Linked DNA regions of Homo sapiens: region 1 is linked to region 2. Evidence: fine-mapped expression QTL. A gene starts in region 2. The other region holds a variant in brackets. All regions are shown on one strand. Distances are from middle to middle.

The links.
Region 1: its variant is fine-mapped to the expression of RAB18 in whole blood (INTERVAL, PIP 0.97).

The regions. Positions count from the first base shown.
Region 1 is chr10:27,553,052-27,569,737 of GRCh38, reverse strand. It overlaps LINC02680 (long intergenic non-protein coding RNA 2680), which reads right to left and starts at 3,551. Exons shown (of 3, transcript XR_007062094.1): 1 at 2,801-3,551. The variant T/G (reference allele first, on the strand shown) is at 7,501.
Region 2 is chr10:27,496,089-27,512,774 of GRCh38, reverse strand. It overlaps RAB18 (RAB18, member RAS oncogene family), which reads right to left and starts at 8,471. Exons shown (of 7, transcript NM_021252.5): 1 at 8,338-8,471; 2 at 2,845-2,900. The coding sequence starts at 8,405. LOC124902399 (a long non-coding RNA gene) reads right to left here and starts at 8,330. Exons shown (of 2, transcript XR_007062097.1): 1 at 8,051-8,330; 2 at 7,683-7,796. RefSeq lists enhancers at 8,336-8,395, 8,506-8,775.

The sequences.
Region 1 (16,686 bases), 57 kb before region 2:
GTATGGAGATAGGGGAAAGTAGGAAGACCAACAGGGAAAGGGTAGAGGAACAATTAGAGACTCTAATGTTCAAACCTAAGATGCCTCATCCTCAGTGCTCCTGAGACCACCCACTGCTGTGCCCCACCAGCTCAAAAAGAGACACACACCTCAGAATAATGGTCTCCCCCAAATGGTCACATCTGTATCCCCAGAACCAGTGAATCTCACATGGCAAAAGGGATTTTGCAAAATCGATTTAGTTAAGGATCTGGTTTGGCTGTGTCCCCACCCAAATCTCATCTTGAACTGTAGCTTCCATAATTCCCACGTGTTGTAGGAGGGACCCCGTGGGAGATAATTGAATCACAGGGGTGGTTTCCCCCATACTGTTCTCGTGGTACTGAGTAAGTCTCACAAGATCTGATGATTTTATAAGCGGTTTCCCTTTTCACTTGGCACTCTCTCATTCTCTTGTCTGCTGCCATGTAAGACATGCCTTTCACCTTCTGCCGTGATTGTGAGGCCTCCCCAGACATGTGGAACTGTGAGTCCATTAAACCTCTTTTTCTTTATAAATTACCCAGGTATGTCTTTATAAATTACTTTATAAATTACCCAGGTATTTCTTTATAAATTACTCAGGTATGTCTTTATCAGCAGCGTGAGAGTAGACTAATACAGTTAAGGACCTCGAGATGGAGATATTACCCTGGATTATCTGGATAGGGCCAATGTATTCACAAGGGTCCTTGCAAGAGAGGGGCAGGAGGATCTTACTCAGAGAAGGGGATGTGATGACAGAAGCAGAGATTAGAGGAAGAGAGAGATCTGAAGACAGTGCTGCTGGTTTTGAAGCTGGAGGAAGAGACCCTAGCCAAGGAATGTGGGCGGCCTCTAGAAGCCCACAACAGCAAGGAAGTAGACCTTCCCCTTGAGATTCCAGAAAAATGCAGCCCTGTCAACACCTTGATTTTAGAACTTCTAACTTCCTGAACTATAAGACAATACATCTGTGTTGTTTCAAGCCACTAAGTCTGTGGTTACTTGTTTGGTAACAACAGGAAACTAACACATGTCTCCATCCCTGGTGAGAAGTTACTGACTTATGACTCCATTCCCTCAACTCTTGATAGCCCTTCCAGTTCTCAAAGTTCATGTTTCTGTGATTACAAACTAGGGGACCATGTGGAAACGTTGTTCTTTTTTCTTTCAATATGTTGACAGTACATTCCTCTAAACAAATTACGAGTCCTGATTTGAAAGATTCAGAGACAAAAACGCTGGGGCCACAGAAATGAGGTAACTTCACACATGAATTGCAGCTGATAAAAAAAAAAATAGCAGACCTGCACCCACAAGACAAGGTACCACTTCCCTAGAGGGAAGCTCAGCTTCATGCACATCCTCTGTGACCCTCCCTGTATAACCTTGGAATCCACATTCACTTCCAGGAATCCAAGCACTTTCAACTTACGGAGGGAATACCTTTCACTTAAAAGTACTGAAATGGTAATCTTCCCTCATCAATATAAACACACATCTAAGAATCACCAGATAGCTGAGAAAATAACAATGTGAAAAAGAATTAACACATGAGGAAACAGAATTTACAAAGGAAACAAGAGAAGACTGCAAAATAATCATTAGTATCCTCAGAGAAAGGAGAAGCTATCACAACAAGAAAAAGTTTCTTTGAAAAAGTGATCAGAGTGGTTGGAAAATAGAAATGATTGTCATCCCCCAACTCCACAGATAAATCTCAATCTGTGGGCTAAGATACAGAAAGGAAATATGTGAAGATTAAAGTGGCGACCTGGAAATGCAAGCTGAGTGATCCTCCAGGATACAGTGCAAAATAAGAAGTAATAAAGTGATGGGGAAAAGGTTAAGAGACAAAGAAAATAGAGAACACAAGTCCACTGAAACCCTAGCAGAAGTTGTGAGGAGAAACTCATAGCAGATACATCTTACTGAAATTTTTGATGAGAATAAAGAAGTTTTCACTACATGTTCTCACTTATAAGTGGGAGCTGAACAATGAGAGCACATGGACACAGGGAGGGGAACAACACACAATGGGGCCTGCCGGCGGTTGCAGGGCCAGAGAGAGCCCCAGGAAAAATAGTTAATGCATGCTGGGCTTAATACCTAGATGAGGGGTTGACAGGTGCAGCAAACCACCATAGCACACATTTACCTATTAACAAACTTGCACGTCCTGCACATGTATCCCAGAACTTAAAATAAAATAAAAAGAATAAAGAAGTTTTCTTGTTACTGATTTCTATTTTGATTCTGTTAAAGTCTGAAAAAATACTCTGTAAGATTTTATTACTAGAAATGTATTCAGACTTGTTTCATGGCTCAGGATATGATACATTTTGGTGAACATTCCATATGCTTTTAAGAATAATGTGGGCAACATGGTGAGACCTCATCTCTACAAAAAATAAAAATTGTCTGGCATGGTGGTACGCACCTGTATTCCTAGCTACTTGGGAGGCTGAGGCAGGAGGATTGCTTGAGCCCAGGAGTTTGAGACTGCAGTGAGCAATCATCATGCCACTGCAATCTAGCCTAGGCAACAGAGCAAGACCTTGTTTTTAAAAAAAACAAAAAGAAGAATGCATATTTTGCAGCTGTTGAGATAATGTTCTATAAAAGAGGTTTATTATGAGAATTAAGTGGATTAATGTGTGTGAAATGACATAATAACATTGAAATATCTCAATAAGCACTAGCTGTTATTTTGCTATTGAAAAACAGTTTTCTTTTTTTAAAGTAAGATAAAAATAGATATCTGATATTCCATATTTACCCACATATTTACCACTTGGGTGTTCTTCATTGCTTTCTGTAATGAAGTTTCCATCTGTCATTACCGTACCCTGAGCTTTCAGCTTTAGATTTGTAGTGTTGATGAGCTGGCAAAAAAAAAAAAAAAAAAAAATCTCTCAGCTTTCATTGATCACAAAATTTCTTCATTCTCTTTTGAATGATATTCTAGATGGATATGATATTCTGGGCAAGCAAATTTTTTTCATCTCAACACATTTAATATGTTGTTCCATTATCTCTGGGCTCCACTGCTCAAATGAGATATAAGACACCATCTGTATCCTTGTTCCTTTGGCTATTTTCAAAATTTTCTCTCTAGCTTTTGATTTTACCTTCAGTTCACTCATCTTCAGTTCATGCTAGTTTCTTTTGCCATCTCTAGTCTACTGGCTAAACCCACCCAGAAAACATTTCATTTCAGATACAGTACTTTTCATTTCTGGAATTTCCATTTGATTTCTTTTATCCATTTCTCCAATAAAATTATAAGTTTGTTTAGTCATTGTGGTCATTTCCCTTTAAGTCTTTGAAGATGACCATAATAGCTCCTTCCAAGATTTTGTCTGGTAATTCAAATATCTCAGCGTTTGTTTGTCTTGACTATGGATTCCATGTTCTTGTTTGTTCACCTTTCTAGTGAATTTCAATTGTGTAAAAGATTAACCTATGCCATGGTTTGAATGTGTCCCCTAAAGTTCATGTATTGGAAACTTGATCCCCAATGTGGAGGTGGTGGGAGATGGGACCTTTAAGAGGTGTTTAGTTTGTAAAAGCTCTGCCCTCATAAATGGATTAATGCCATTATTGTGAGAGTAGGTTTATTATCACAGGAGTGGGTTTCTTTTCTTTTCTTTTTTTTCTTTTCTTTTTTTTTTTTAGATGGAGTCTCACTCTGTTGCCCAGGCTGGAATGCAGTGGTGTGACCTCAGCTCACTGCAACCTCCGCCTCCTGGGTTCAAGCAATTCTCCTGCCTCATCCTCCTGAGTAGCTGGAATTACAGGTGCATGCCACCATGCCTGGCTAATTTTTGTATTTTTCGTAGAGATGAGGTTTCACCATGTTGGCCGGGCTGGTCTTGAACTCCTGACCTCAGGTGATCTGCCTGCCTCAGCCTCCCAAAGTGCTGGGATTACAGGCATGAGCCACTGCGCCAGCCTAGGAGTGGGTTTCTTATAAAAGGATGAGTTTTGTCCCCTCTTGCTGTCTCTCTCATCCATATGATGTATTCCACCACATTATGATGCATAAGAAGGCCGTCACCAGATGCTAGTACTTTATATTGGACTTCTCGACCTCCAGAACTATAAGCCAATAAATGTCTGTTCATTATAAATTACCCAGTCTGTGGTATTCTGTTTTAGCAGCACAAAATGGACTAAGCCTCTTATGAGCTACTCATCTATTACCAAGGATTATTATTTTTGCCTTTTAGAAAAATACACTACTAACAATGTAATAGTTAGACTGAATGATGGAAGGTCAGATTCAGAGAGATCCATTAGAGAATGTTAATGTTACAGATTACAGTGGTAATGGAGAAGTTCAGGTTTTAACGAAGACCTGAACTAAGGATAAGGAACTCTATTTATGTATGCCAAGATGTGGAAAATAATCTAAATGTCCATTGACAGATGAATGGATAAAGAAAATATATGCAAACAATGAAGTATTATTCAGCCTTAGAAAAGAAGGAAATCCTACAGTATGAGACAACATGGATGAATGTGGAGGACATTACACTATGTGAAATAAGGTAGTCACAGGACAACAAATACTTTTTTAGATGCTTCATATAAGTGGTTCCACTTACATGAAGTATCTAAAAATAGCCAAAGCCAAACCCGTACAGAGAGTAAGAAGACTGGTTGCCAGAGGCTGGCGGCGGGGAGGGGGAAATGGGGAGTTGATATTCATTGGGTATAAAGATTTAGTTATACAAGATGAATAAGTTCCAGACATCTGCTGTACAATTAAATGTCTATAGCTAATACTTAAAAGTTTGTTGAAAGAATAGGTCTCATGTTAAATGCTATTACTACAATTTTTAAAAAGAGAAATGCTAGAAATCAAAAACACTGTAAGAGAAATGAAGAGCCTTTGATGACCTTGTTAGTAGACTGAATATGACTGAGGATAGAATCACTAAGTTTGAGGAAATGTCAATAGAAATATTCAAATTGGAAAAACAGAAAACGAAGAAGTGAGAAAGGAACAGAAGAGATTAAGTGAAGCAATAATCATTGAGAATTTTGCTCAAATAAATGTCAGACACCAAACCACAAATCCAGGAAGCTGAGAGGGCACCAAGCAGGATAAATCTCTCTCTCTCTTTCTTTCTCTTTCTCTTTCTCTTTCTCTCTGTCTCTCTTTCTCTCTCACACACACACACAGACACACACACACACATACCCTACATGTAGGCATATCATATTCAAACTGAAGAAAAATCAAAGATAAAGTGTTTCAAGAAGGCAAAAGAAAAAAAAACACTTTATCTCTAGAGGAGCAAAGATAAGAATTACATGTGATGTCTCCTCAGCAAGTAGGCAAGCAAGAATAGAGTGAAGGGAAGTGTTTAAAGTTTTGAGATAAAAGGCCACCAACCTAGAATACTGTACCCTGAGAAATTATTCAAAAGTGAAGGAGAAATGAACTTTCTCAAACAAACAAAAATCAAATTTGTTGCCAGTAGACCTGCCTTGCAAGAAATGTTGAAGCATGTTCTTCAAAGAGGAGGAAACTGATACAGGTCAGAAACTCAGATCTACATAAAGAAAAGATTAGCACTGGAAAATGAATAAGATATGGTTGGACAAAAACTTTTACTTTTCTTATTACTCAGTTTTCTAACCAATAAATGTTCAAAATAATAATAGAGGCTGGGTGCAGTGGCTAACACCTGTAATTCTAGCACTTTGGAAGGCTGAGGTGGGAGGATCTCTTGAACCCAAGAGTTTGGGACCAGTCTGGGCAACACAATGAGACCCTGTCTCTACAACAACACAAAATTAGCCTGGCATGGTGGTATGCACCTGTAGTGCTACTCAGGAGGTTGAGGCAGGAGGACTGTTTGAGCCCCAGAGGTCAAGGCTGCAGTGAGCCATTATTACAATATTGCACTCCAGCTGGGCAACAGAGCAAGACCCTGCCTCAAAATAATAATAATAATTGAAGGGTATGGTGGTATATGTCTGTGGCCTCAGCTACTTGGGAGGCTAAGAGTGTCACTTAAGCCCAGCAGCTTGAGGCTGCAGTGAGCCATGATCACACCACTGCACTTCAGCCTAGGCAACAGAGTGAGACTCTGTCTCAAAATAAGAATAATAGTAATAAAAACAATGTCTTTTATTATCTATGCTTATATATATATATATGTATGTTTATGTAACTTTACGTATAAGTGATAACTTTAAAAAATGGGCCCATTTCTTTGAAATTTCACAATCTAACAAAACTCACAAAAGAAGAAATACTTTGACTAGGCGTATATCTATTAAAGAAAGTAAATCAATAATTAATAACCTTCCAAAACAGGAAGCACCAGACCCAGATGGGTTCACTGGTGAATCTACCAAATATTGAGGAAGAAATTATGGCAATTTTCTACAATCTCTTCCAAAAGACAGAAGCAGAGGGAATATTTCCTAACTCATTCTATGAGGCCAACATTACCTTAATACGAAAACTAGATGAAGACATTATTAAGAAAGAAGACTACAGATCAATATCTCTCATGAACAAAAATCCCCAATAAAATATTAACAAAAAGAATGCAACAATGTATAAAAAGATTACACACTATGACCAAGTGAGATTTATCTAAGGTGTGCAAGGTAGTTTCAACATTCAAAAATTAATTAGTGTAATTCCATCACACCAATAGGCTGAAGAAAAATTACATGATCACACAAATAGATGCAGAAAAAGCATTTAATAAAATCCTACATGCATTCATGATAAACCATTCAGAAAACTAGTAATAGAAGGAAACTTCTCAACTTGATAAGAAGAAATCTCCAAAAACCTACAGCTAACATCATAGTTAATAGCAAGAAACTAGAAGTTTTCCCACTAAAATCATGAAAAAGGTAAGGCTCTCCTCTCACTACTCCTTTTCAACATCATACTGGTAGTCCTAGTTAATACAATGAGACCAGAAAAGGAAATAAAATGTATACAGATTGAGAAAGAAGAAATAAAACTATGGTTGTTTTCAGATGACATGATTGTATATGTAGAAAATCTGAATGAATTGACAAAAAAAAAACCGCCTAGAACTAATAAGAAATTATAGCAAGGTTACAGGATACAGGCTAACATACAAATGTCAATCATGTCTCAGTGGTATAGTGGTGAGCAGAGCTGCCTTCCAAATATCAACCATTTTCCTATATAACAGCAAGGAACATGTGGAATTTGAAATTAAAAACACATTATTACTCACATTAGCACCACCAAAAATGAAATACTTAGCTGTAAATCTAACAAAATCTGTATAATATCTATATGAGAGAAACTACAGAATTCTGTGAAAGAAATCAAAGAACAAAATAAATGGAGAGATATTCCATGTTCATGGATACAAAAAAATTAATGGTTTCAAAATGTCAGTTTTTCTAACTTGATCTATAAATCTAATACAATTCCAAAATCCCAAAGGCAAAAGACCCAGAAGGGCC[T/G]TCTCAATATTGAAGAACAAAGTCAGAGGATGGCCACTATCTGACTTGAAGACTTTGATCTTTGACAAAAGAATAAAGGCAATACAATGAAGCAAAGAAAGTCTTTTCAAGAAATGTTGCTGGAACAATTGGAAATCCACATGCAAAAGAAAGTCAATCTAGATAGACATAACACCCCTAACTAACTTAACTGAAAATGGATTATAAACCTAAATGTAAAATGCAAAACTATAAAACTTCTAGAAGCTAATACAGGGGAAAACCTAGATGACCTTGGGATGGCGACGACTTTATAAATTCAATACCTAAGGCATGATCCATGAAAGAAATAATTGGTAAGCTGGACTTCATTAAAATTAAATTTTCTTCTCTGCAGAAGACAAGTCAATAGAATAAAAAGAAAAGCTACAGATTGGGAAATAATATTTGCAAAAGACATTATCAGATAAAGAACTGTTATTCAAAATACACAAAGAACTCTTAAAACTCAACAATAAGAAGGCAAATAACCCAACTAAAAAAGACTTTAACTGACGACTCACCAAAGAAGACACAAGAATGGTAAATAAGCATATAAAAAGATGCTCAACAACATATGTCACTAGAGAATTGCAAATTAAAACAACAACAAGCTAACACGACACATCTATTTGAATTGCCAAAACCCAAAATGCTGACAACATCATATGCTGGTGAGGATGTGAAGCAACTGGAATTAGCATTCATTGCTAGTGGGCATGCAAAAAGCCACTTTGTAAAAGCTTGGCAGTCTCAGGGATTCTCCCAAATGAATTGAGAACTTACATCCATGCAAAAACCTGTATGCACAAGTTCATGACAGCTTTATTTATGATTGCCAAAACTTGGAAGCAAATAAGATGTCCCTCAGTAGATGAGCAGAAATACAAATGGGTATAGACAGAGAATAAAATGTTCTTCAGTGCTAAAATAGAAGTGAATGATTTAAGTCACTAAAAGACATGGGGGAAACTTAGTGCATATTACTAAGTGAAATAAGCCAATCTGAAAATCCTACATATTGTAATGATTTCAATTATACAACATTCAGGAAAAGGCAAAACTATGGATATGATAAAAATATCAGTGATTGGCCAGGCATGGTGGCTCATGCCTATAATCCCAGCACTTTGGGAGGCCAAGGTGGGCGGATCATGAGGTCAGGAGATCGAAGGCATCCTGGCCAACCTGGTGAAACCCTGCCTCTACCAAAAAAAAAAAAAAAAACAAAAATTAGCCAGGCGTGGTGGGGTATGCCTGTAGTCCCAGCTACTCAGGACACTGAGGTAGGAGAATGGCTTGAACCTGGGAGGCGGAGGTTGTAGTGAGCCGAGATCTTGCCACTGCACTTCAGCCTGGTGACAGAGCAAGACTCTGTCTCAAAAAAATATATATATACATATATATATATATATATATATATATATATATATATATATATATATACACACACACACACACACACACACATATATATATATACACATATATATATATATATATATACACATATATATATATATATATATATATATATATATAATCAGTGATTGCCAGGTCTTAAAGGAGAGGGTGGGATGAATAGACACAGATAATTTTTTTTTTGAGATGGAGTTTCATTCTTGTTGCCCTGGCTGGACTGCAATGGCACAATCTCAGCTCACTGAAACCTCTGCCTCCTGGGTTCAAGCGATTCTCCTGCCTCAGCCTCCTGAGTAGCTGGGATTACAGGCCCCCACCACCATGCCCGGCTAATTTTGTATCTTTAGTAGAGACAGGGTTTCACCTTGTTGGTCAGGCTGGTTTCGAACTCCTGACCTCGGGTGATCTGCCTGCCTCAGCCTCCCAAAGTTCTGGGATTACAGGCGTGAGCCACCACGCCCAGCCCACAGAGAATTTTAGGGCAGTAAAACTACTCTGTATGATACCACAATGGTAGATACATGTCATTGAACACTTGTCAAAACTCACAGAATGTACAACACCGAGAGTGAACTCTAATGTAAACTATGGACTTTGTTGATAATCACGCATCTCTATAGGTTCATTGATGGTAACAAAGGCACTTCTCTGGTGTAGGTTGTTGATAATGGAGAGGCTGTGCATGTGTGATGGCAGAGGATATATGGGAATTCTGTTCTTCCTGATCAATTTTGCTGTAAACAAGAAACTACTCTAAAAACAGTCTATTTGTGAAAAAGTACAGAATGGAATTAATCACTCTAGGAGAAAAATTAAGAAAATAGAAACAACAACAATAAAAATGTAGACTATCACTAGAACCAAGATTTTTGAAGTGGTAAGTGTGATCAATAATGTTAGCAGAGGCCAGGCACGGTGGCTCATGCCTGTAATCCCAGCACTTTGGGAGGCGAGGCAGGCGGATCAGTAGGTCAAGAGATTGAGACCATCCTGGCCAACATGGTGAAACCCTGTCTCGACTAAAAACACAAAAATTAGCTGGGAGTGGTGGCGCACACCTGTAGTCCCAGCTACTCGGGAGGCTGAGGCAGGAGAACCGCTTGAACCCGGGAGGCAGAGGTGGCAGTGAGCTGAGATCGCGCCACTGCACTGCAGCCTGGTGAAAGAGCAAGACTCCGTCTCAAAAAAAAAAAAAAAAAAAGAATGTTAGCAGAAAAAGGGCTTCTGAACGTTCTAAAAATGACTTTAACATTACAGACATATACTTAGATCAAGTATGTCTATCATTACTCATCCAGAATAGCGTAATTTAAGCAAAGAAAGGCAGAGAAAGAGGGACAGTGCCAGGTTCTGATGAAGAATACAATGAAAGGATTGTCTTATAATTTGAAACATTTGGAGAAGGAAGCCTATTAGAATTAAATGTATTCAATATATTAGAGTCAAAATCATCAAACAATTTAGTTTTAAAAGTTTGATGGAAAATGAAGCGCAATTTTAAATTCTTTATTTTAACTGAGTGCTTCCAGAAAACAGTTTTCTCTCTCACAAAAGGAAACACAGTATAATCTCTAAAATGGTTTTAAAGGAAAAATATAAAAATATATAAATAAGTAATCTTAAAACCCTAAATTGGCTCAGTTTTATAAAACACTGGTAGCATCCTCATTTTATCTGTAATGCCTCTACTCAACCCCCTAAAACTTCTCTATAAAAAGATAAATGTATGCTATAGAAAGGAAGCAATTCTCTCCTCCAAAATTGCAAGATCGGTTATGCTTCCATGTCCTCCACCTCCAGCTAAGTCAATCTCTGTGGCTGCTAAACTATAATTTGGCCCCAGGACTGCTGTGAAATCTGTCTGTTGACCAGTATAAGCAGTCCATCTTACAACAGGAAGGCCCAGATATAATCAAAAGGTGATTTGTTGCTGAATTTTCTCAAAAAGAAAATAAAAGAAACAAAGTCACAGAGGAAACCTGGCCAAAGAAAGTACAGCCTGTGAAAATTCTCAGCTGGACAGTGCCTAAGGCGTCTTTGAACTTGACCTTCACCACAGGGTCTCTCATGTTACTGAGGAGCTGCTGCCACCTCATGGAGAACTGAGAGATCTCATTTTCCAAGCGCGTGGGTTTCTAATAGCCAAATGATCTTTGTCAAAATAAAGGTAATGCAATGAAGCAAAGAAAGTCTTTTCAACAAATGTTGCTGGAACAATTGGAAATTCACATGCAAAAGAAAACCAATCTAGATAGACAAAACAATCATTTTCTAGGTGCATGGATTCCGGAATCACTCATTTATATCTTGCCTTTTCTCTTTTGTTGGACTATTAAAAAGAAAGCATAACAACCACATGAATCTCACATAGACAAGCCCATTCTCGTTGGGCGCAATTCTCCTAATTCAATTTTTGATAACCATAGTATTATATAGCACATGCATATGAAATAAATATCATCTCATTTTGAGTGATTACTGCGTGGATTTAGATCTATCATCAGTCAAATTATGTTCCACAAACTGACTGCAGAGAAATAACCTAACACCGACAGGCTACAATTCTGCCCTGAATGTACACTTTACAAAGCTAATAGCTAAATTGCAAAATTTAGAGAATAACAAAATTTAAAAGGGTCTTGATGCTCCTTTTCCACCTTCCCTGCAACATCCTCACTGAAAATCAAAAGATCTTTCCTTCTTGTTTTTTGTATTATTGTCTCTCAACTTTTTTTTGTTTTGTTTGTTTGTTTGAGACGGTGTATCGCTCTGTCGCCCAGGCGGGAGTGCAGTGGCGCGATCTCAGGTCACCGCAACCTCCGCTTCCCGAGTTCAAGCGATTCTCCTGCCTCAGCCTCCGGAGTAGCTGGGACTACAGGCGCACGCCACTACGCCCGGCTAATTTTTGTATTTTTAGTAGAGACGGGGTTTCGCCATGTTGGCCAGGCTGGTCTCAAACTCCTGACCTCAAGGATCTGCCCGCGTCGGCCTCCCAAAGTGCAGGATTACAGGGGTGAGCCACCACGCTCCGCCGTCTCTCAACTTTCAAGTTCTATCTTAAGCCACGTGACCCGAGCAATAGAAATGGGCAAGTATTTCTAGCTTGGTGCAGTGTTTCATGCCTGTAATACCAACACTTGAGAAGTCCAAGGTGGGAGAATCCCTTAAGGCTGGGAGTTCAATATCATTCTGGGCAACATAGCAAGACCTCGGCTCTACAAAAAAAAAAAAAAAAAAAATGCGGGAGGTCAAGGCTGCAGTGAGCTATGATTGTGCCATTGCACTCCAGCCTGGCCGACAAAAGTGAGACCTTGTCTCAATTCTTCAAAATAATGAAGAAGAAGACATGGGCAAGCGCAAGAACTAAAATAAAATTATAAATTCATTTCCAAGGAGCTTTTATATCTTACTCGCAGAGAAAAACCGTGTTGGGTGTTTTTGTAGAAGTGCCATTGTGTGGATTTTGATCTAGAAAAAATTACCTCAAAGTGTAAAATGTAATTTTTATGAATGATATTCTTCACTGGAGACAGAATGGGATTTCTAATAATCGCATCTTCATCATTTGAAACTTGGTGAGTTTTGGCATTTCCATGGTTTTTGTTTGTTTGTTTTTAATGCTTTAAGCAGGTACTACTGTCCCCCAGGAAATTTGTAGATAAAAGCAAGTTATTTACAAATTTGTTCGCCTACTTTTGATCCCACCCCAGCTCTGTACTCTGGGCTCACACTTCAACAAATCTTAGTAAAGTTTAAAAACAAATCTGAATTTCCATATTTGTATTTCACATGTCCTTCAAATATTTAGAAAGTTGGAAGAGAAAATCTGAAAGTAAAATGTCTGCTTTCAATTTCTTCACCACGGTGAGTTTACATAGAAACTTAAGGAACCTCCAAAAATAAGTTATAAAATAATAGGTTATACCACATAAATGTGCATAGATGCGCACACACACACACAGACACACACAGTAGGACTTCAATGGGTGTTTATCATATTACTCTTTACAATGTATCTACGTAACCTATATTCTTTTATAAAGATGAAAATTTTATTAAAAATGAAATAAAAAAGACATGATTGTAAGATTATCGTATTAGACACAATTCAAGGCTGAAACTAATTAAACAAGGAAAAGAGGGAATATTATGTAGTGGCAAAAGATGCAATGATAAAGAATATACACATTGTATTTCTTCATGAACTAAATAACATAAAGCTAAAAATTCCAAAACTATAAGAATGTGATAAAATCATCTGTCATGATAATAACCTTAATACAACTCTTTCAGAATTTGACAAAGTACACAAAGTTACAATGTTATAGAAGATGTGAATAATCTGTGTTTTACTTAATACGCATATCTGTATAAAACGTTGTATTCCACAAATCCTATAAATTAAACTTCTTATATGTATGAAGTAGCTTTAAAAATCAGTCAAGGCCGGGCGCGGTGGCTCACACCTGGAATCCCAGCACTTTGGGAGACCGAGGCGGGTGGATCACCTGAGGTCAGGAGTTCGAGACCAGCCTGGCCAACATGGCAAAACCCCATCTCTACTAAAAATACAAAAATTAGCGGGGGGTGGTGGTGGGCACCTGTAGTCCCAGCTACTCAGAAGGCTGAGGCAGAAGAATTGCTTGAACCCGGGAGGTGGAGGTTATAGTGAGCTGAGATTGCACCACTGCACTCCAGCCTGGGTGACAGAGCGAGACTCCGTCCCACCCAAAAAAAAAAAAAAAAAAAATTCAGACAAAATTCCAACTCTATTTGTTAGCTTTGTGACCTTGGAAAAGTTCTTTAATCTTTCTAAATTCCTGTTTCCGTCTCTGTAAAATAAAAACTGTCACACTTACTCACTGGACTTTTGCGAAGGTTTAAATGATTAATAGGAGTAAAAGCCAAGCATGGGACCTAGCACTTACAAAACAGTAAATAACAGTGTTTTTTCTTTCTGTTATCGTATTTCTTCCTGGTCGTCATCTTCTCCAACTTGAATGCTAAGTACTTTTCACTCCTTCTTCATATCACACCTCTCTATTACTTCGAAAAATTTTAGATGCCACAAACTGGGCTACCCAACATACTCCAACATCATTGCAGCTTCGAATCAGAGTCAGGCGGTTTTATAGACCAGCATGTCCAATGAACTGGTCTTGCCCTTAGCCGCGCTGTATTATCCAACTATAAGTCTAAAATAAGTAATCACAAAATATTAACAAGCCAGTCAGAAAAAAAAAAACAAACTGAATTCTTGGCCACGAAGAAAACCTTAATGAATTTCAAAAAATAGAGAGATTTTGTCTCACGTTTTCTAACCATAATTGGATTATAAACTAGAAGTTTACAACAAGAAGGAAAATAATAGCCTAAAGGCAGAATAATATGAAATTAAGGCATACTCTTCAAAATAGTTCCTATCCAAAGAGGTACTTAAAACTGATATTACAGTCTGGGCAAGATGGCTCATGTTTGGAATCCCAGCACTTTGGGAGGTCAAGGCAGGAGGATTGCTTAGGACCAGGAGTTTGAAACCAGCCTGGACAACATGGTGAAACCTCATCTCTACAAAAAATTAAAAATTAGCCAGGTGTGGTGGCACAAGACTGTAAGCCCAGCTATTCGGGAGGCTGAGATGGGAGATCACTTGAGCCCGGAAGGTAGAGGCTGTAGTGAGCCATAATTGTGCCATTGCATTCAGCCTAAACAACAGAGTGAGACCCTGTCTCAAAAAAACAAAAAACAAAAAAACACCGATATTACGAATAAAAAGAATACTTGATATAAAAATATCTAGGCATAGGTAAACTCTATACTACAGTAGGAAATATCTTAAATGCTTCTATTACTAAAAAGAAAAACTAACAATAAATGAAGTAAGCCAACTAATGAACTTTCTAAAAATTACGATAAATCAAAAGAAAATCATAGAGAATGAAAAATCAAGGATATTGACCAACCAATCACACTTCTGGCCACACAGTATCTGTACACAATTGTTCATAGCAGCTTTATTTGTAATAGTCAAGAACAGAAAACAATCAAAGTGTCCTATGACAGGTGAATGATTAAATCTATCTGTGGAACATACATGCCTTGAAATACTACTGAGCAATAAAAAACAAGTTGTTGATATGCCCGACAACTTGCATTAATATCATGAGCATTATGCCAAGTGGAAAAAGCTAATCTTAAAAGATCGAATGCTGGCTGGGCACACTGGCTCACATCTGTAATCCTAACACTTCGAGAGGCCAATCACTTAAGGCCAGGAGTTCGAGACCAGCCTAGGCAAAATAGCAAGACCCTGTCTCTAAAACAAAATTTTAATTAGTTGGGCATGGTGGCATGCACCTGTAGTCATAGCTACTCAGGAGGTTGAAGATGGAGGATCACTTGAGCCCAGAAATTCAAGGCTGCAGTGAGCTATGATCACACCACTGCACGCCAGCCTGGGTGACAGACAAGATCCTGTCTCTAAAAAGAAAAAAATAATTTTAAAAATCACATACTATATGATTCCATTTATATGATAATTTTGAAATGACAAAATTATCTATCTGGAGAACAAATTAGTAGTTTCCAAAGGTTAGGGAAAGTAAGAGGAGGAGGAAGCATGACTGTAAAGGGACAGAACAAGAGAGACGTTTGTGGGGATGAGCCTGTTCCGTATCTTGATTGTGGTGGTGACTACACTAATCCACACATGTGATCAAATGGCCCAGAAGTACATGCATGCCTTGTACTAAGGTTGACCTCCTAGTTTTGATATGTAAGCCATAACCATTGGGAAAATTGGATCAAGGGTACATGGGAATGCTCTGTATTATCTTTGTAACTTCTCACGGATCTATAATTAGCTCAAAAAAAGATTTTTTTTAAAAAAAAGATGAAATTTTAAAATAAAAAGTATTTAAAATTTATTTTAAAGTTTTTAAATAAAATCTTGGTTTTTGAAAACATGAATGAAACAGATTAAACCTCCAACAAGGCTGAACAAGGGGGAGAAAGAGAGATTATGGAAAATATACAAGTAGGAAGAAGAAATAAGATATTACCCCAACTACAGCTGATACTAAAAGTAAGAGACATGATATACACAATTCAGTGACAATACATTCAGAAACTTAGGGTAAACTGATCTACTATGGGCCAGACACGTTTTTAGGTAGGGTCTCCTGGATATTCACATAATTTTTGCTCACGGAATCCCCAGGAGGCACCATTCCCATAGAACACAATGGAACCCACTAGAAATCTACAGGGGGAGTACAACTGTGTCTATGAACAGCCCTCATTACAGGAGCTTAATGTAGATCAATTTACAAGACCTCATCTATGCCTTTCTGCAGCATATAGATGCAAAAGCTATAAATACACATATGAGTAAGTCGAATCCAGCAGTGCATTGAAAAAAATACAACATGGACAAGATACATTCCAAGAATGTAAAGATCGTTTTGAAATAGAAAATCTTCAACATAATTCATTATATAAACTAGCAACAAAACCATTTGATTATATCAATAGTTGGCAAAAAAAAAAAAGAATCTGAAAAAATTTAGCTGCTATTCCAAAAAAGATTAAAGTAAAATATTAAAATAATACAGTTAACTCAATATTCTAAAATAGTAAAGACTGTTTCTTGAAATAAAAGAAAAAAAAAAGCAAATGGTACCTTAAAAGACAAAGTACTAAAACTATTGTTATAAAACAGGAACAGACAAAATTATCTTTACTCAC
Region 2 (16,686 bases):
ATGTATGTTCATTCCTTCAGTAAAATTTTAACTTTAGGCAAGTTTATTTTCCTGCCAGTTGCTACTGCTCTCCTCCTGGCTAGCCAATACCAATACGTACTCAGGCAGGTTCTGACCAAAATAAGGTTTTACTACTAAGTAATTTTTTATAGGAGTAAATAATACACCAGTATGGGCACAGTGGCTCACACCTATAATCTCAACACTTTGGGAGGCCCAAGGTGGGTGGATCACTTGAGGCCAGGAGTTCAAGACCAGACTGGCCAACATAGCAAAACCCATCTCTACTAAAAATACAAAAATTAGCCAGGTGTGGTGGTGCATGCCTGTAGTCCCAGCTACACAGGAGGCTGAGGCACCAGAATCACTTGAATGGGGAGGTGGAGGCTGCAGTGAGCCAAGGTTGTGCCACTTCACTCCAGCCTGGGCAACAGAGCAAGACTGTGTCTAAAAATAAATAAATAAAATTAAATAATAATAATTATTATTATAATACAACAAAGCCAAATTACAATGGATTTTGAATTCGTGTTTTAAATGATTCCCTTTCCTATGACACAAATAAGAGTAAATCTGTAAATCTTAATATCATGCAAAAGCTAAGTAATGCCTAATTTATTGAAAATTTAGAGGCACCATGAGTTCATATGAAGAAAAAGAAACAAACAAACATGAGCTCCTCCTGAGCTGGGCATGGTGGTACATGGCTGTAGTTCCAGCTACTTGGGAGGCTGAGGCAGGAGGATCACTTGAGCCCAGGAGTCTCAGGCCAGCCTGGGCAACACAGTGAGACACTGCCTCACAAAAAAAGAAAAAAAAAGAGCTCTTACTTACAGAATTCCAAACAAGATACATAGACAGAGTGATGGCATTTTAAAAAAATCCCCATTTGATAACCATCACAGTTGGAATGAAAAGATCATATACTGTCCTTATCACTTGTCACAGGCAAGAATTATCAATGGATGCTACAACAGGAGGGCAAAAAGTGTAAGAAGGAGGATACCTATACAGTCTCAATGTATCTCTCTACAAGAAATATATTAGTTATGAAGGGAAAAATAATAACTTCACTGACACTATGTTCTGAAAAACACTTCTGTGGAATTGCTGCCAAAACTGCATAACCTGAATCTAACCGTTAAGGACATACTGGACATACACAAATTGAGAGACATTCTACAAAATAATTATTTACTCTTCAAAAATGTCAAGGCCCTGAAAAGGCAAATAAAGACTGAAGAATTGCTGATTAAAAGAGGCTGAAGAGGCTCGACGCGGTGGCTCACACCTGCAATCCCAGTACTTTGGGAGGCCGAGGTGGGTAGATCACTTGAGGTCAGGAGCTCAAGACCAGCCTGGCCAACATGGTAAACCCCGTCTCTATCAAAAATACAAAAAAAAATTAGCCAGGCGCAGTGGCATGTGCCTGTAGTCCCAGCTACTTGGGTGGCTGAGGCAGGAGGATCACTTGAACCTGAAAAGTGGAGGTTGCACTGAGCTGAGTTGGTGCCACTGCACTCAGCCTGAGCGACAGAGCTAGACTCTGTCTCGAAAATAAATTAATTCATTAATTAAATGAAATAAAAGAGGCTAAAGAGAAATAACTAAAATCAGTGTATGATCCTGGACCCGAAACAATTATTTGTCTTTTGCTATATGGGACATTAATGGGACAACTGATAAAATCTGTGTATAGACAATAAAATGTATCTATGTTCATTTAAGAAATACACATTAAAGTATGCAGACGTTGAAGACATCATGTCTACAATCTACTCTCATTTTTTTAAAAAAGAATACTGTGTGTAGAGAGAGAATGATAAAGCAAATGTGACAAACATTAACATCTGGAGTAATTTAATAGGATACATAAGAATTATTTGTGCTATTTTTACAAATCTTTGAGTCTGAAATTGTTTCACAATAAAATTTTAAAAATAGACATACAATCAATGAAAACAAATAAAGCCAGTTAACAGAAACTCTTTATTTTCCCTAACAATAATGCTAGGATCATCTTTACTATATTCTCCTCATCAGATCATGAAATTTTAACAAAACCTCCCAATTTACAGATGAAGTTAGTAAGTTAAGTGACTTCATCAAGATTACATGTAATTCAAGGCAAAGTCAACCAAGACTATTATCTAGCTCTGACTCAGCTCAGCTACCTTTCAACTATTCCAAGTGGTCTCTTCATCCCTTTACGTTGTCTGCAGTCTAAACACATGATACCAAAATACTTACCTCTATCTTCTCATATATTCTCATAAGTTAGTGTGACTAACCACTTTCAGGCGATCTAAATCTTATCCTTAAAAGGCATTTAAGTATCATTGCTCCTAACAATCCTTAATAACTAGTATCAATACATATGTGAAGATAAGAATACACGTCAAACACTGTAGCAAATGCTGAACATACAAAATTAACACACTCTGTTAGGTCCACGATGACAGAGACCAAGTTTGTTATTCACTATTATAACCCCTCCTCTTAGTAGCAGTCCCTGGCATACAATAAGTATTCAAATAACTGTTGTATATTACAAAATAAAAGACAATCCATAGTATAGGAGAGAAATGTGTGTACAGATAATCACATTAGCAGTTTTAATAAAGTATCATGAGACAACAGATAAGGAAGTTATTTTCTCTTGGTAAGATCTAGAAAGGCTTCAAAGATTTAATGATACCAAAATTAAGTCTTGAAGGACAAATAAGATTTCAACAGACATGGAGGCAGTGGGGTGGTGAGAGGAAGGTAGAAGGATTTAGATTAAAAAGGCCAAAGGCAAGAAAATACTGGCCATTTCTATAGAATTTTTAAACACAGGCTTACCTATTGTTGCTGCAAGTTCTGGATCAAACGTATCATCTGTGAACCTCAAGAGCAGGCTGAAAGAGATATTAAAAAGACAGGTTGGGAACTTGAATTTTCTAATCATATGATAAATGTGTTCATGATTATTTGGTCACAAATTATTAGATGCAGATAAAAATAACTGATGTAGGCCTGTTCCTAGGAATACTGCCTCAGAGCAGGTATACACAGAAAAATTAAATTACCAGAAAGGCAATTTAAAAATCCCAAGAGCAAAGTAGTTTACTATGAAATATATTCCCCGTGCTCTCCTACACAATCCCCCAAGTACAAAAGGTGGGGGTTTTTGTTGTAGTTGTTTTTTAACTGTTCTGGTATGTCCTTCTGAGAAAATGATATTAGCAGCATGTCATGCTTTAACTGACATAGATGAAAAGGGAAAAAATAAAGTCTCTTAGAATGCAACAAACTAGCTTTAAAAAATCTGATTGTGTAATCCACTCTGAATTCAAGCAAAACCAGAAATATATCAAAGCCGAGCATTCTGTAACACGCAGTACGGCTACTACCTAAGAGAAGATACAGTAAAAAGAGAGGTTAAAAGAAAGATCACAGGACAGAGTAGATAGACTCGGGCAAACACTAGGTAGAGTGTGTAAAACCAAGTAGGCAACTGGAGGCTACTGGAGGCTTTTAAAGAAAGTTAAGACAAGTACTGCTCTTTGTTTTGAAAAGTTAATACTAACAAAAAATGGAAGAAAATCAATGGAAGACAACCGCCATGGTTATGGCAAGAGAGAACAAAGGACTAAACCTAGGAAATGGTAAGAAACTAGAAAGAAAGGATAAAAGCAAAAGACACCAGATTAGAAGGGTACTCTAAGATTTTACATCTTCCAGAATTATTTTACTTACTATGAAGCAGAAGTGTCAGTTATTAGAAACTCTTCAAAAATAAAATCTAAGCTTTTGTTAAAGCCCTTGATTTTAAAGTCATTCAATCTTCCCTCATGTTAACTTCTGAAGTATAAGACTCTCCTAATTGACCTGTTTGCATGAATAAAATCAAAGAAACAGCCATCAGATATCTAAATTATAGAAAAATCTTATGACTCTTTCTATAGGTTGTGATTATTGCTGGTAGAGGTATGTTTTGTCCATAGAGTTTCTGCAAAACATAATGGCCTCCTGGTAGTTTCCAAACCCAGTGTCATTAAATATATTTGAACGATTAACTCTCCCTTACTTGGTTTTGTTTTCTTGTGTTTACCATAAAACCAGCATCATAAAATCAAAGTAAAAAAGAAGAGTCAAATTCTAGATTTATCTACTTAACATCTTGACTATATTTAGTTACTTGGAACATAGGTAACAATACTAGTAAGACTCTTAAAGACTACCTATAAAATTTTTCTTCTCTCCCAACATACTCAGTTACCCATAATTTAAGAAAAGATACATAATATCTACACGTGGTCACCACAGAAAATATTACTACAAAAACATAAGATTACCTTGTAGACTAGTTGTAATAATATCATAATAATAATACAATAATGATGATATTGGGTATTATTTATTGAACATATGGCAATGTGCAGACACAAAGCCAGAGGTTTTTCTCTCATAATTGCTAATCCTTAAATGGCCTTTGTTATTAACAGTACTTTGTAAGGAGAGGCAGGGAATTGGTGGCATGGTGTGAAGCAACAAATTTTAATACAGGCTCTGGGTATACATCAGATCTTAGACAGGGGTACCCTGGTAGCCCAAAAAGTATTCTAAATTCTATGTGTGCATTTTTCTAGGCAGAGAGTCCATTTCTCTATTAGACTTTGAAAGGGACAGAGAGTCCATTTCTCTATTAGATTTTGAAAAGAACTGACAATCTCAAAATAATTAAGAAGCACACTTTTTTTTTTTTTTTTTTAAGAGAGAGGGTCTCACTCTGTCACCCAGGCTGGAATGCAGTGGCAGAATCACAGCTCACTAATCCTCCCACCTTAGCCCCCCAAGTAACTGGCATGACAGGTGTGCATCACCATGGCCGGCTAATTTTTTTATTTTTATTTTTTTAGAGGCATGGTCTCGTTATGTTGCCCAAGCTGGTCTCGGACTCCTGGCCTCAAGAGATCCTCCTGTCTCAGCCTCCCGAGTAGCTAGGATTACAGGATGAGCCACTGCACCTGGCAGAAGCACCATTCTTATAGTATTGTATATTTACACCCTCATATTTTCAAAGTTAAAGGAGCAAAATGTTTCCCATGCAGAAGTAGAGATGGAAGGAGTAACTACCACCATGGCACTTAGATGTGACCAAATTTATAATAAACAGAGTGTGATTATAACTAATCTGCATTTTTTAAATTTACATATGAAATTCACCAAAAAAAAAAAAAAAAGGGAAGGCAAGGGGCAAAGGAGGGACAGCAATTTAGATAATAGGTCTCTCTAATCCCTTCCAGTTCTTGATATATTCTGCTACTCTTTACCTTACCAGGCCTAGCCACAGAATTGGAGTCTTACACATTTAGGGTCTGAGAGGTTTCTATTCCAACCCCCTCGCTTTTGAAATGAAGGCCTACAGCATTCAAGTATCACACACAAGGTCACACAAGTGGCAGCCCCAGTTTCATAATCCTGATCTCCTGACTACTATCACATACCCTTTAGACTCTAACACTATGAAATCACTAGAAAGTAATCCACTAATTCGGATTAAACATATCCTTTGTTTTCCCCAACAGCACAAGTGCTATCTCACTTCCACTAGCTCCAGCTCTGTAATGAAATAGAAACAAACTTGGTTAAAACAATCCTTTAAGATCATATCCACAGCAAATGTTTTTGTACTAATTCACTTTAAAAGGCATAGACTTCTATTTCAGTGGAGTCATTTATTCTCATCTTATCCAGAGTGTTTAAGATTGTTTTCCACAGCATATCACACAGGCCAATAATGTATATCTAGCTAGACAAATAAGACAACTTTCTCACTATATGTAATCCTTTCACAAAAGAAATAAAGTGACAAAATCCTGCATCGAGCAGTTGATAATCCATTGCTACGTATTGAGGAAAAAGTTTAAAACAGATTAGGCCCACGGTAAATTTGTTTCTTTGTTTCGGTGGCATGAACTAGGGAGACTGATAAATCCACTTAACAGGCCTTACTCTACAAGGAGAACCTCGGTTGGGTGTCATGCCTTGTGTCTGTAATCCCAGCACTTTAGGAGTATGAGGCAGGAGTTTGGCTTGAGCCTGTGTGTTGGAGACCACCTGGGCAACATAGGAAAATCCCATCTATGAAAAAAATTTTAGAAGTAGGGCCGGTTGTGGTGGCTCATGCTTATGTTCCTAGCACTTTGGGAGGTCAAGGCAGGAGGATCTGTTGAGCTCAGGAGTTCGAGACAGCCTGGGCAACACAGTGAGTCCTCCTCTCTATAAAAAATAAAAAAACACTAGTCAGACATGGTGACTCGTGCCTATAGTCCAGCTACTCAAAAGGCTGAGGTGGGAGGATCACTTGAGCCCAGGAGATTGAGACTGCAGTGAGCTATGATCATGCCACTGCACTCCAGTCTGGGTGACAGAATAAGACCCTGTCTCAAAAAAACAGCGGGTAGAGCAGAGGAATTTTGTTTATATACTCCAGTTAACCTTCCAGAAAATTTTAACATACCCTAACTTGTCATCCATGCAATACATTTAGAAAAAGTGCTAACCAACCATGTATTGGGTTGAACTACATGAAATGACAACCAACCATTCTTGACTTCAAAAACACTAATTTCATATGCCTGAACTTAAATGAGAACGATATCTCAAGGAAAAAAGGAGAAAAGAAAAAGAAAGATCACAAGGCTGTGAAATTCCTATTAAGACAACGTTTAACTTTTTAACACTCAAATATGTATGTGCAATAATAGATGATCATGTAAATAATTTTACTCATGCCTTTTACACACACACAGACAAATCATGCTGGTTTGCTAACTCATAGTATTTCATTATTCTATTCCTTGGTATGTGCAAATCCTTCATTCCAGTAGACACAGAGGACATTACATGAGGAACACTATGAAAATGTGTTGTCAAACTGGTGGCTCACGCCTGTAATCCTAGCACTTTGGGAGGCCGAGGTGGGCGGGTCACGAGGTCAAAAGATGGAGACCATCCTGGCCAACATGGTGAAACCCCATCTCTACTAACAGTACAAAAGTTAGCTGGGCATGATAGTGCGCGCCTGTAGTCCCAGCTACTCGGGAGGCTGAAGCAGGAGAATCGCTTGAACCCGGGAGGCGGAGGTTGCAGTGACCCGAGATCGCGCCACTGCACTCCAGCCTGGCAACAGAGCGAGACTCCGTCTCAAAAAATAAATAAATAAATAAGTAAATAATATCAGAATATATTACATAAGCTTTCAAATTCTGAAGAAGCTTTTAAAAAGTAAGACTTTATGAAGTGACTTTTACAAGTTATTTGAGGAGAGCTTTCATTCTAGTTTGTAGAATTAAGGCTATTTCAATTTATGAAATACAAAAAATTATTTGAAAGATACGTGTATCAGAAGGTATAGCTAAAATATGAAACTGATTACAGCCCCTGGAGTGCAAATGTGGTTTAAGGATCAGGACGGCCTTGAACATAACCTACTCATAATCAGATGGCAAGAATGACATCAGCTGGAGAACTCTCTTCCAAGACCTGGATGAAATCACAGCCCTCTAGCAACATCCACCTAGATCCATGTCTTACCTTATACTCAACTCCACTGTCAATATTATTTTCCCCAAGGAAAAAGTAAAAAATGAAAGCACAACACTAATCTTCTGTCTCCACAGGATGTGGCAAAATGAGAAATAACAATTACATTTTATTTTCAAAGGTGGCCCACGGCTGAAGCACTCGGACCTTACACTAAAGCGAAATTTTCCAGCAGTCACAAGATCCAGTTCTTTCACAGCCGACTAATAAAAAAGTAAAAGAATCGACATTAAGCTGCGCCCAAACAGGCCAGGAATGGGACCTAAGGCGTCACGAAACTTCCCGAGGACATTATGTATTTAGAGAAGGCCCCACAGAAACCCTCAAGTGGGAAAGCTATGTCTCCCGGGTCTCGGGGTGGCAGGCAGCCTGAACCCCGAGAGGTTCGAGGCAAGGCGCCCCCGGCCGGATTCGGGCCCAAACCAGCCCGCCACGCCCTGAGCTCCGCGCAGCAAACCTGCCGGCCGAGCGGCGGCCCTCGGAATGGTGTTTTCTCGGCGCTACAGGAGGGAGAGCGACCCAGAGAACTTGGGCCTGGCAAAGGCCGGGAACCAGGCAGGCGCGGGTGGGGAGAGGAAAGCAAACGTCGCGGGAGAGCGCGGCCCAGAGGCCGAGGAGGGCGCGAGCGGAGCCGGCCCGAGCCCGCCGCTGCAGTTTACAGTTCCCGTCGCGGCCCAGGAGACAGCAGCCACCGGGGCAGAAAGAGCCCAGCCACCCTCGTCACGACCCGCACCTCCGCCTCACCTGGACTTGCCCACCCCACTCTCGCCGATGATGAGGATCTTCAGGGTGGTTAGCACGTCCTCGTCCATCCTGACCCCGTTCCGCTCCGAGCCCAGCTGGCCGCCCGGGTGCGCCTCTCAGCCCTTCAGCAGAGTGAGCTGCTGCGCATGCGCGCCGCTCCACGTCTGCCACCTTCCTTTCACACCGGGTGTTCAGGCTGCCGAAGCCCTGGACTCCCCAGTTCCGCCTTGAGGTAGCTCCACGGCTGCGCGACCCAGAATCCCCGGCGTTTTTCCGGACTGCGTGTTCCTCCCCTGCGCAAGCGCAGGTGGGGAGCGCTGTGTGTGACTTTGTTGGCTTCTTCTTGAGGTCTAGCTCCGCCCCAGCCTCAACCTAACCCTCCTTTTGAGTCAGTGGGAGGACTCAGTCAGGAGAATATCAAGCTGTTTTATTTCGGCAGCTGCTCATAACAGCTGCACTGCGGTGGGAAAAGCACTGTGCTTGAAGCAGATTATCTTAAATTTAGGTCCAGCTCTACCTTATAACTGCCTTGTCATACTACCCAGCTTTCTTAGCCTTTCTCCATCTCTGAGAGACACAGTAACACTTCTTAGAACATCTGCTTCTTATTGTTATGAAGGTTAAGTGAGTTAATTTGTGAAGACATGTTGTTAACCAAAGTGCTCTATAAAAGGTGTGATCAGGTATTATCTTGCTGGCTTCCCCTCTGTTATAGTGGAGAGCACCCTCTGCACCCTAATTCATCTTGAAAGGGAGGCGTAGACTTCAGGTAGGTCAGGTGCATTACTTCTGGCGGTGCAACTTCAAGTCAACTCTCCTTCCTCATAAGAACTGCTACACCCATACTGCAGGAAGTGTATGTCTACACCTTGCCTCCTGCATTAAGTTGTAAATCTTAGTGAAGGTACCAAACCTCATTCATAATACTTAGCACAGTGCCTGGTACATGGCAGGCACTCAATAAACCTCAGTTCTCTTGTCTTATTTCCTTATACCTGCAGCTAATGTCATATACAATGGATATTTGATTAAAGACTACATATAAATAAAATTTCAAATGTTAAGAAATTAATTTGTTAAATAGCTGGAAAAGCCCTTTCAAAAGATATCCCAATGGCTTCTCCTCCTTCAGGTCTTCGCTCAAATGTTGCATTCTTAAAGAGGCCTTCCCTGTCCATTCTACTGAAATATGCAAATCCCTCCAGCATTCTCTAGACCTCTTTACATTGTTTTTCTGCATAGGATTTAACCACTCTCTGATACACTATATATTTTACTACTTTATTAGAAGTCTCATGAAGGCAAGGATATTTTGTTTTGTCTACTGGTATGTCTTCAGTATCTAGAGTACTTCATGGCACATAATATGTGCTAAATAAATGTATGCTGAATGAATTAATTGAATGAATGTTGTAGAGTCCATTCCTAACCTTAGAGAATAATGTCAATGAAACAACCTCCACTTCTCATCAGATAGCCCTTGAAACTTCAGTCAAGTCTATCTAGCTTACTTTTCATTATGACAAAAAGATCTTATTTATGAGGTTCACAGTATTGTCAAGCTCTCCTGCCCTGGGGTCCCGAGATCCCTAGAAATCCCTGAAAACCTTTCAGGGGGGTTGCAAGATCAAACTATTTTCATAGTTAATATGTTATTTTTTCATGCACATTCTCTGATGATAATATAATGGAGTTTTCCAGAGGCTATATATTAATAACATGTAATAGCAAAACAGATTGAAGGCAGAACAAGATATGTGAACTTACTGGTTTTCTATGATATTAAGCCAGATATTAAAGGGATTTCCTAAAATGTAAAACATTGCCACTGTTCTCAATTTTGTTCTGTTTTAAAGTAGTTATTTTCATAAACATTTCTATTAACTGGTAATAGGTTTATTATTGTTTTTAAGTAAATTAACATGTTTGAAATTTTCTCAGTTTTAATTTCTAGTAGGATAAATAAGAGATGTAATCTCTTTGGGGTTCTTACAATCAAAAGCTCTTTCAGGTCCTCAATGATTTTTAAGAGTATACTATAATTTGTACAACCAAAAAGTGTGAGAACCATTGCACTGTGCTATTCACACCAAGATAAATACAAAAACAAAAACTTCATCAATAAATCCAGGGCTATCTCTTGCAACCTGTAATACTGTTGACGTACTTTGGCAATATCATTTTCTCTTGGATTTCCTCCATCTCTTGGCCATTTCCTCTCTTTCTTTTTCTTTTCTTTTCTTTTCTTTTTTTTTAAGAGATGGGATATTGCTATGCTGCCCAGGGTGGTCTCTAACTTCTGAGCTCAAGAAGTAATCCTCCTACCTCAGCCTTTGAGTAGCTGGAACTGCAGGCATGCATCACCACGCCTAACTAATTTTTAAAACATTTTTTTAGAGATGGGGTCTTGCTATGTTGCTGGTCTCAAACTGCTGGGCTCAAGCAATCCCCCTGCCTCGGCCTCCCGAATTTACATCTCTGGCTGAGATTTTTCTCCTGAGGTTCAGGCCAACATACACAACTGCCAAGACATCCCCACATGGGGGCTGGCAATAAAGAGATGTACTTAAAAGACACAATGAATAACTGTCCCATGCTTAGTGAAGAAGAGGGGAAAGAAAAGGGAAAGAAAAACATCGAACATTTCTCTAATGTTTCAAGCCTCGGCACTACCAATCTGAGAGAAAACCCAAGACAGAAACAAGAAGGAATATGAGTTTCGTTTCAGCCATAGTGAATTTTATGTAAAGGTGAGCCTTGAAGGCAAAATTTTTCAGACCTCTTTTAGAGCAGTGGTTCCAAGATTCAGGACAGATAGCAAGACACTAAAAAAATGAACCAAGGAGATGGCCTAGGTGTTCTAACCAACAATTTGGCCTAGGTGTTCTCTTCTATATACTATTATCCTTACATCCCTGGAAAACACAGCCAAATCCTTTCTTAGGTTTCAGACATAACTGACTGCCCTTTTCCCTGTGGATCCATCTTCTAGTATTAATTATTTTTACCATATCCAAATATATGATCACCTCATAAAGGAATGTCTATGGCAATATTCTTAATACCTGAAGTTTGGGATGAGCAATGAGCAAGCCCAGTATGTAGGAAGAAATTGAAATGGCGAAACCACTTGGAGATGTGATGGAGAAGGCCCATCCCATGTTGCTGTCAGTAACATGCCTACAGTGGGCAGCCCCAGAGATAGACAACAGATGAGAGAAAAAAACAGATTCAGGCCTTTGACTTTTCTCCATCCTTCGGCATCAGTAATGAAGATAAGAGAAATGCTGCTTGCAGAACTCACATTCTGTGAACAGGTACCAACATGAGCACTGTGACTCATGGCTTATGTAGGACTGCTTGGGTCCAAGTGTAACAGGCGTCTGTGGCTAGAGTTTAGGAGTTGGTAGTGAGAGAAGTCATACAGCATTGCCACCTCCGCCCCCAGCTCCATTGCCCCTGGCTGAGCTGAGGTTCCGAAACAACCCCCACCCTCTCCAGGTACTGCTTCTCCTTGCCTCGGTTGATATGCACAGGAGCTTTGGTATGCAGTCAAGGAAGAGATTACTTTTTGTTGTTGTTGTTGTTGTCGTTAGAGATAGGGTTTCACTATGTTTCCCAGGCTGGACTCAAACTCCTGGGCTCAAAAGATCCTCTTTCCTTAGCCTCCCAAGTGGCTGGGACTACAGGCACATTATACCATGCCTGGTTTAAAGAGGAGTTCATTTCGTTGTTTAATTATTTGGGTGAAGGCTTGGGGATTTGAGAGAAGGGTTAGAAGTAAATTCTGTGGAAAAGGTAGCTGAAATGTCATTTTGACCACTTGGGTGGGGTTTTAGCCCTATGATTAGAGGGGTCAGGGTCAAGAGCTGGAGTAGCTACTTTAGGCTTGCAGCCTGACACAAGCAACTCTGTCTGAGGGCCCGTGGGACAGGATAGCTGGGGCTGAGAAGAAGGTCATTGCACTATTTTTTCCATTTGACCCAAGACCCTTTTCCAACCTTCTCTGTTACAATCTATATAATATCACCTTCTACCAAGGAACTTATTTTACAGCAGAAGTGTGGCTGTGGGCTCAGGCATGCCCTTGGACTTCACTGGTGTTGTCACCAGACCCCACTTCAGGAAGCAGCTAGTATGATAGACAATGGGATGGCCCATTGCCCACTCAGTTAAGGTGGCAGCAGGGAGATAATATTCTGTAAGGTTGCACTGCTGCTCTATAGGATGTAGTAAAAACTTTAAACCTGCAACCTACAAATGATGCTGTTTTCCTAATAAAATTCACAGTCAATGAGGAGCATCTGACCTCCTGGATCATTACATGTTTCTCTTATGTGACTCCCACCCTGGCCCTAGCACTTAGTGGGCTATGGTAACATTATTTTCTGCCTTTGCTTCCTCAGATCTAGGGTGGAAAAGGCTGCCTACTGAAGTTAATTTCTGGGTTCCTCACTTTTTGGTGGCCCTAACCTGGCCATGCTGCTGTAAATAGTCTTTTGGTTATACTCTCTTGAGATATCTGAGTTAGATTTTCTTTCTTGCTGGGACCCTGACTAACCATTCTATTCATTTATTCATTGACCTGAGCACCTAAAGCTCACTTCCTTGGAAGAATTAAGAGATAGCATCTTTGGCACAAATATTAGTGTTTTCAGGAAAGTTACCATCAGCAATGATGATGAAACTTTTTTTTTTTTTTGAGACAGTCTCGCTCTGTCACCCAGGCTGGAGTTCAGTGGCACCATCTTGGCTTACTGCAAGCTCCACCTCCCGGGTTCTCGCCATTCTCCTGCCTCAGCCTCCCGGGTAGCTAGGACTACAGGCATCCGCCACCATGCCCAGCTAATTTTTTGTATTTTTAGTAGAGATGGGGTTTCACCATGTTAGCCAGGATGGTCTCAATCTCCTGACCTCATGATCCGCCCGTCTTGGCCTCCCAAAGTGCTGGGATTACAGGCGTGAGCCACCGGGCCCAGCCAGTGAAACTTTTTTAAGAGGCGGTTTCTCGCTAATTCCCAGGCTGGAGTGCAGTGGCTCTTCACAGGTATGATCATAAAGCACTGCAGCCTCTAATTCCTGGGCTCAAAGGATCCTCCCACCTTAGCCTCCCCAGGAGCTGGGACTGTAGGTGCATGCCACCATACCCAACTCTGATTACACAACTTTAAGAGGCTTTGTGGGCAAAAGGCATCAATCCATGATAGCATGAGCAGGAGGAAAAGATGGCAGAGTCGATATGATAAAAGCCTGGCACCCACATAAATAGTCAACTGATCTTTGACAAGGGGCAAAGGCGATACAATGGATAAAAAATAATCTTCTCAACAAATGGTGCTGGAAAAACTGGAGAGCCACATATGAAAAAATGCATCTAGAAACAGACCTTACGCTTTTCACAAAAATGAACTCAAAATGGATTACAGACCTAATGTGTGACACAAAACTATAAAGCTCCTAGAAGGTATCATAGGAGAAAATCTAGATAACCTTGAGTATGGCAATGACATTTTAGATACAACACTGAAGACGTTTCATGATCCGTGAAAGAAACTGATAAGCTGGACATAATTAAAACTTTAAAAATTTTCTCTGAGAAAGACAATGTTAAAAGAATGAGAAGACACCTCTGCCAAAAGACTGCTATCCAAATGTACAAAAAAACCTTAAAACTCAATAATATGAATACTAACAATCCGACCAAAAACTGGACCAAAGACCTTAAGAGATACCTCACCAAAAAAGATATACAGATGGCAAAAAAGCATATGAAAAGATGCTCCAAATCATATGTCATTGGGGAAATAAAAAGAAAACAATGAGATACCACTATACACCTATTAGGATGGCCAACATCCAGAACACTGACAACACCAAATGCTGAGTAGGATATGGAGCAACAGGAACTCTGATTCATTGCTGGTGGAAATGCAGAATGGTACAGCAACTTTGGAAGTCAGTTTGATGGTTCCTTATACTACTACATATACAGACTCTTACCATGTAATTCAGCATGCAATTCAGTTCTCCTTGGTATTTGCCGAAAGAAGTTTAAAATTTATGTTTTAACTTTTTTAACACAGAAACCTGCCCTCATATGTTTATAGCAGTTTTATTCACAATTGCCAAAACTTGGAAGCAACCACGATATCCTTCAGTAGGAAAATGGATATGTGAACTGTGTTCGAGCCAGAGAATGGAATATTATTCAGCATGGAAAAGAAATGAACTAACAAGTCATAAAAAGACATGGAGGAAACTTAAATGCATATTACTCAGTGAAAGAAGCCAATCTAAAAAGTCTGCATATTATATAATCCCAAATATATTACATTCTGGAAAAGGTACAACTATAGACACAGTAAAAAGATCAGTGGTTGCTAGAAGTTAGTAGGGAGGAAGGGATGAATAGGCATAGAATAAAGGATTTTTTAGGTCAGTGAAACCACTTTCCATGATACTGTAATAGTGGATACATACCATATACATTTATTCAAACCCATAAAATGTACAACAGCAAGAGTAAGCCCTAATATATACTATGTTCTTTGGTGATAATGATGTGTCAGTGTAGCTCCATAAATTGTAACAAATATAACACTCTGAGGGGGAAGGAGTTTTTTTTTTTATTTGAGATGGAGTCTCGCTCTGTCACCCAGGCTGGAGTGCAGTGGCGTGATCTCAGCTCACTGCAAGCTCCACCTCCCGGGTTCATGCCATTCTCCTGCCTCGGCCTCCTGAGTAGCTGGGACTACAGGCACCCGCCACCACGCCTGGCTAATGTTTGTGTGTGTGTGTGTGTATTTTTAGTAGAGACGGGGTTTCACCGTGTTAGCCAGGATGGTCTCGATCTCCTGACCTTGTGGTCCACCCGCCTCAGCCTCCCAAAGTGCTGGGATTACAGGGGTGAGTCACAGTGCCTGGCCTACTGTCTATTGTCTTTGTCTAATTTTGATATTTTATGCTGACCTCATAAAATTAGTTGGGAAGTCTTTTCTTTACTATTTTCTAAAAGAGATTTTGGAAAATTGACCTAAATTCAAACTTAACTCTTCCTTAAGTGTTTGTAAAATTTACCAGTGAAGGCATCTGGGCCTGGTGCTTTATTTTTTGAAAGGTTATTTGTTATTGATTTAATTTCTTTAGAAGTTGCATGGAATTGGTTTTATTCCTTCTTTATATGTTTGGTAGAATTTACCAGCAAAACTATTTGAGCCTGGAGATTTCTTTTTCAGAAAATTTTCAACGGAGAATTAATGATTTACAATAGTCACAAGACTATTGAATTATCTATTTTATCTTGCTCAGTTTTGGCAGTTTGTGTGTTTTAGAAATTATTCTTGTTCAACTAAGCTGTCAAATTTATGTGAGTGAAGCTGTTTATTATCTTTTTAAAGTATGCAGGGTATGTAGTGATTTCCCCTATTTCTTTCCTGATATTGGTAATTTGGACTTCACACTTTTTTTGTGTGTCACTCTTGCTAGATAGAGATTTATCCTATTGATCTTTTCAAAGAACCAACTTTTATTGATTTTTCTCTTTTCTGTTTTCAATTTCATTGATATCTATTCTTATCTTTCTTAGTTCCTTCTTACTGCTTGCTTTTTGTTCTTGTTCTTCTAGTTTTACATAAGGAAGTTTGGTTATTGATTTGAGATCTTTCTTCTAATAAAGTATCTAATGGCAGAAAATTTCCACTAAGCACTGATGTAGCTGCAGCCTACAAATTTAAATATGATATATTTTCATTTATTTCATAGATTCCTGTAACTTCCCCCTCTTCTGTTATGGCTGTCTTGTACATTACATCTACATTCGTTGAAATCCTCACCAGACATTGTAACCACCCAGTGGGTTCACCTTGCCTGCTGCCTAGACAGAGCCAGTTTATCAAGACAGGGGAATTGCAAGAGAGAAAGAGTAATTCACGCAGAGCCAGCTGTGCAGGAGAGCAGAGTTTCGTTATTACTCAAATCAATCTCCCCAAGCAGCACTCAGGGATCAGAGTTTTTAAGGACAACTTAGTGGGTCAGGGGAAGCTGGTCAGCTAGGAGTGCAGATTGGTCAGGTCAGAGATGAAATCACAGGGAGTCAAAGCTGTCTCCTTGCCCTGAGTCCGTTCCTGGGTGGGGGCCACAAGATCATCAAGTGTATCAATCTGGGTGGTGCCAGCTGATCCAACAAGCGCAGGGTCTGCAAAATATCTCAAGCACTGATCTTAGGAGCAGTTTAGGGAGGGTCAGAGTCTTGCAGCCTCCAGCTGCATGACTCCTAAACCATAATTTCTAATCTTGTGGTTAATTTGTTTGTCCTACAAAGGCAGTCTAGTCCCCAGGCAAGAAGAAGGT